Regions from separate parts of the Homo sapiens genome. Here region 2 is linked to region 1. A link means that fine-mapping ties the variant in region 1 to the expression of a gene that starts in the linked region. Tissue or cell type: testis. Region 1 holds a variant in brackets; the other region holds the start of a gene. All regions are shown on one strand. Distances are between the middles of the regions.

The links. PIP is the estimated chance that this variant, and not a neighbour inherited with it, causes the effect.
Region 2: it holds the start of STARD3, and the variant in region 1 is fine-mapped to the expression of STARD3 in testis (GTEx, PIP above 0.99).

What each region holds. Positions count from the first base shown.
Region 1 is chr17:40,100,057-40,102,736 of GRCh38, forward strand. It overlaps NR1D1 (nuclear receptor subfamily 1 group D member 1), which reads right to left and starts at 533. Exons shown (of 8, transcript NM_021724.5): 1 at 8-533. The coding sequence starts at 38. RefSeq lists enhancers at 1-763, 229-298, 779-898. The variant C/T (reference allele first, on the strand shown) is at 1,442.
Region 2 is chr17:39,636,009-39,638,688 of GRCh38, forward strand. STARD3 (StAR related lipid transfer domain containing 3) reads left to right here and starts at 1,136. Exons shown (of 15, transcript NM_006804.4): 1 at 1,136-1,223. It overlaps PPP1R1B (protein phosphatase 1 regulatory inhibitor subunit 1B), which reads left to right. Exons shown (of 7, transcript NM_032192.4): 7 at 1-616. LOC124903998 (a long non-coding RNA gene) reads right to left here and starts at 1,282. Exons shown (of 2, transcript XR_007065749.1): 1 at 983-1,282. RefSeq lists a silencer at 1,078-1,147 and an enhancer at 1,688-1,807.

The sequences.
Region 1 (2,680 bases):
TCAGTACCTGTGTTGTTGTTGGAGTCCAGGGTCGTCATGTCTTCACCAGCTGAGAGCGGTCATTCAAACTGGACCTTGACTCAAACTAGAGGTTGCGATCGCCGCTGTTGCCCCCTGGGCACTGGCTAAGGGCGGGGAGTGGACCCCGCGACTCACGATCAGGATCCGAAGCACCCTGCAGCAAGGTCTTGGGGTGGCCGGACTGCAGCCCTGCAGAAGGGTTGGACGTTGAGGCAACGGAGTTCTGCTTTGCATGGGAAGAGCAGAGAGAGTGTGTAGGGGGAATCAGCCTGCAGTAGTTCTGGCTAGAAGGTAGCAAGGAGGGTCGGGTCTCTGCAGTGTACGGGGTGCCTCTGCCTGCCGGCTCCGCAGCGCTGCGGGGTGGCGAATCTGGAGCTCCCGGTGCAAAAGTCCCAGAGGAAGAGAGGTTGCAACCAGGAAGTAAGTAGGTGATGGGGAGAAACGGGGCACCGAGTCGCAAAGAGGCGAGACGTGTGCCCTGCTACGTTCCCTCGGCAGTAATATTTCACTCTGCCAATCTCAGCCGCCTTTTGCCCGAGCCTTTCCCTGGGACAGAGGGCTCTGCGCAGGCGCCAGCAGCCCAGGGTTCCCGGGCCGCACGCGGCACTGGAGCAGGTACCATGTGATCCCAGGGAGCGCCTCGTGCCCCAGTGACACACTTTTCCAACAGCCGGCACGTTGAGCTCTTGCGCGCCTGCGCAACGACAAGACTGTCGGGATTTGTAGTCCACCGACAAAGTGGGCGGACTGCGTGCCTTTCCCCTTTCTGCCTGGCAAAGCGCTTGCCGGGACCTGGGAGGAGCTGAGAGTGGGGTGGGGTGGGGTGCGCTGAAGAGTCAGGGTGGCGTGTTTAGAAAGCCTGTATGGCAGGGGCATGTGAATTTCTGGGGAGGGACTGGCAAGCTTGTTTGCTGTCTGGGAGATCAAAGCTAAGAGGCCCTTTCTGCAAACCTTGCAAACGTGAGGGCTTCACGTGATTGCAGGACTGACCTCGTCCTGAGGTTACTGGTGACCGGGAGAGAGAGAAGCCGGGGAGGGAGATTTCCCTGGAGTCAGGAGCTTAGGCTGCCCTCTGCTTCAGGGCAAAGTCCAGAGAAGGAAAGGAAATGTGACCCCCTTTCCCTTCTACTCGCCTTAGGGAGAACACCTCCAGGGGAAGGAGTTCCCACAGAGGTAGGGATGTCTGTAGGGACTCCCTGTTTGCTTGTATGACACCATTCCACCCACTCCAGTTGACTTTGGGGTGAGTCATTTCCCTTTGTCTGGGAAATAAAAAGGACAACAGAGGGGAACTAATAGTGAAAGTGCTTTGAGGTCCTAAAGTAATGGGGAAGAGGTGAGGCAGGGGGTGGGGGCAGAGTGACACCCCTGCCCCTCGGTGCTGGAGGATAAAATATGAATTCCACAGAAGATTACTACT[C/T]AGAGGGGAACATGTAGATCATCTTAAGCCTCCCTCTTTTTACTAGTGGGGAACAGGAAGCTTAGGAGAAGTGACCGACCCAAGGTCAGACGTCCATTGCTAGTTTCATCTGCCCACCCCGAATGGGAAGGTGGGTAGATGTACAAGTGAAATACTGAACAGGGGTTAGAAACAGCCAGCATTGCCGGGTGCTTTGGCTCATGCCTGTAATCCCAGCACTTTGTGAGGCTGAGGTGGGTTGATCACCTGAGGTCAGGAGTTTGAGACCAGCCTGACCAACACGGTGAAACCACGTCTCTACTAAAAATACAAAAATTAGCCGGATGTGGTGGTGGGTGCCTGTAATCCCAGCTAGTCAGGAGGCTGAGGCAGGAGAATCGCTAGAACCCGGGAGGTGGAGGTTGCAGTGAGCCGAGATCGCCATTGCACTCCGGCCTGGGGGATAGAGTGAGACTCTGTCTCCAAAACAAACAAACAAAAAACAGCCAGTATTTCGCTTCAGAGCAGCAACTGTCCCATGAGTAATAACAGATCTCAAGTAGAGGAGATCTATCATGTTAGAGGGCTTGGGTCATGGAGGGGATGGAAGCTTCTTAGGCAGCGAAGGGAGAGGGAGCCTGAGCCACCTGCTGCTCCCGCTAATTCCTCCCCAGTCCCAGTGCTTCTAGAGAGGGTTTTCTTCACATAGGAAGCCCTTCTCCACAGGCAGCTCCTGGGATGGTATTGATGGATGCCTGGGAAACATGAAAGCCACCGAAAAGGTAGAGAAAAAGAATATGGGAGTCCGGGGGTGGTGGCTGACACCTGTAATCCCAGCATTTTGGGAGGCTGAAGTGGGCAGATCACCTGAGGTCAGGAGTTCGAGACCAGCCTGGCCAACATGGTGAAACCCCATCTCTACTAAAAATACAAAAATTAGCTGGGCGTGGTGGCGCACGCCTGTAGTCCCAGCCACTCGGGAGGCTGAGGCAGGAGAATTGCTTGAACCCAGGAGATGGAGATTGCAGTGAGCCGAGATCATGCCACTGCACAACAGCCTGGGCAACAGGGTGAGAGTCCATCTCAAAGAAAAAAAAAAAAGGCCAAGTGTGGTGGTGGCTCACACCTGTAATCCCAGCACTTGGGGAGGCCGAGGCAGGTGGATCACCCGAGGTCAGGAGTTTGAGACCAGCCTGGCCAACATGGAGAAACCTCGTCTCTACTAAAAATACAAAAATTAGCTGGGCGTGGTGGCGCACG
Region 2 (2,680 bases), 460 kb before region 1:
GTGTTTGCTTGTTTGCCCACCTTTGGCTGATACCCAGAGAACCTGGGCACTTGCTGCCTGATGCCCACCCCTGCCAGTCATTCCTCCATTCACCCAGCGGGAGGTGGGATGTGAGACAGCCCACATTGGAAAATCCAGAAAACCGGGAACAGGGATTTGCCCTTCACAATTCTACTCCCCAGATCCTCTCCCCTGGACACAGGAGACCCACAGGGCAGGACCCTAAGATCTGGGGAAAGGAGGTCCTGAGAACCTTGAGGTACCCTTAGATCCTTTTCTACCCACTTTCCTATGGAGGATTCCAAGTCACCACTTCTCTCACCGGCTTCTACCAGGGTCCAGGACTAAGGCGTTTTTCTCCATAGCCTCAACATTTTGGGAATCTTCCCTTAATCACCCTTGCTCCTCCTGGGTGCCTGGAAGATGGACTGGCAGAGACCTCTTTGTTGCGTTTTGTGCTTTGATGCCAGGAATGCCGCCTAGTTTATGTCCCCGGTGGGGCACACAGCGGGGGGCGCCAGGTTTTCCTTGTCCCCCAGCTGCTCTGCCCCTTTCCCCTTCTTCCCTGACTCCAGGCCTGAACCCCTCCCGTGCTGTAATAAATCTTTGTAAATAACTGCTGAGACTCCTCTTTCAGGGGAAGCAGGAGGAAAAGGGAGGTAATGGGGCGTCCTGATAGGGAAGGCCGGTGGTCAACCAAGGGTTAGGGTTTTGACCCTACTGTCCAATCCTCTAGTCTAGGAGTCTTTCTGGCAGACAGCAGGCTCGGGGCACTCAGAGGAAGAACTACAGAAGTTCTAGCTGCTGCTTGGGATGGCTGAAGGAGGCAGGTGGGGTGGGGAAGTCCTTCTCGAATAACTGGATTCCTCCAAAGATTTCCCCATCCCCACAGGACTCCCCTCGGGAAATTCCCCTTTTTCCCTCAGTGCCAGGCCTGTGTGGCCTAATAACGACGGCCCTGGTCTTCTTCCCACTCCCCTACCCTTAGGTAGGCCCTTAGACTCCGGCCTTTGAGTCCGCTTCTGCGCAGGGCCGGGGCTGGAGGCGGGGCGAAGGGGCGGGGCCGCAGGCGAACGCAAGTCCCGCTTCGCTCTCGGGGGCGGACTCAGCGGCGGAAGTGGCGCTGCCGGAAGATCTTCTTCCGCTCTGAGGCGCTACTGAGGCCGCGGAGCCGGACTGCGGTTGGGGCGGGAAGAGCCGGGGCCGTGGCTGACATGGAGCAGGTGGGTCCCGGAGCGGTCGCTGGGAGCGGGTGGCGTGCGAGGGCCGTCTTCCGCCGGTCGAACCCGCTTCGCCGCCCGCTGTCCGTGCTGGGTTCCGTCCGACCCTTCCCACACCCGCTGCGTCTCAGGTTCCGCCCCCTTCCTCTGTCTGGCCTCGCGCCGCCCCGCGCGGGTTGGGGTCTCCAGCAATGACTCTTGGCGACCCCGCCTATCCTGGGGAGCCCGGGGAGGACGTTCGGGATCTCCTTCCAAAGCCTCCGTCTTAACTGAGGGGAGAGGAGAGGGTGAGGTGTCTGGGTGTTATGAGCAGGGGCAGGTATGGGGAGGGGTCGGAATCTGGGGTGAGAGGAAAACATCTACGCATTCCGGTAGCTCTGCGTCTCAGTGTCATCCCGTGTCTCCCCAACTTCCTTTCGAAACGGCCGTGAATAACTTCCTAATTGGTATTAAAAGGGCCCTTTGAAGTCTTGAGTTCTTAGAGGTGCATAGTACCATTGACACTCATTTCTAATGACACGTTCCCTCACCCCGCATTTTTGGGTTAGTCAATGTCTCCTGGTTTTCTTCGTACCGCTCTGACAGTCGGTCAAAGTCCCGCTTCACGTTTTCCTCTGTCGCCCAACCCCTCGCTCTGTACACTGAATCTCAGTGGTCTTATTTTCCCCCACGGCTTCAGCTTTACACCAACTAAATACCCAGATCCACATCTTCAGCGCAGCCCTTCCCTGGAGCTCCACGCTTGCCCATCCAGCGGCCATTGGGACAGCTCTGCTTCACATGGAGCTCACTGGGTCCAAACTTGAACTGGTCTTTTCCTTGCAGATTAATTCTTCCTCTACCCCAACCCAGCCGGAAGTCTGGTAATTTCCTTACACTTTCTCCTCTCTTTCAAGTCCCACATCTTAAAAGTGACCTAGTACTGCCAACTTCCTGAACATCCTTCAAACCTGGGCCAGCTCCATCTCTTCTGTTACCACGCTGTTGATGTATTGTCAATTCCCAACAGTCCAGCCCTGGCAGCTTGCAACCCAGTCTCCAAACTGTAACTCTTGTGATCCTTTTAGAACACAAGTCTTACGGTGCCAGTTCCTTGCTGATAACCTTTTTCTGGCTTTCTATTGCCTATGTGCTGAACCCCTAGCACAATTTACACAGCTCTCTGTGATCTGACCTAGCAGTCTCCTGTGTGCACCCTAAGGTCCAATAATACGGCACTGCAGCATGCGCCATGCCTACCCTTGCTGTTCGTATCTTCATGACTTTGCACACACCAGCCCCCGCTGCTTGGAAACCTCCTCCTTCTCTTGTCTGCTGGGCTACCTTCTACATGTTTTTCAGCGCAGGCAGCGCTGCCTCCGCCTAACCCCCAAGGTTAATTGCCCTTCTGTGTCCTGTAGCACCCTGTCCATAATAGCATAGTAGCTGAGAATACAGACTCCTGGATCAGACTGCCTGGG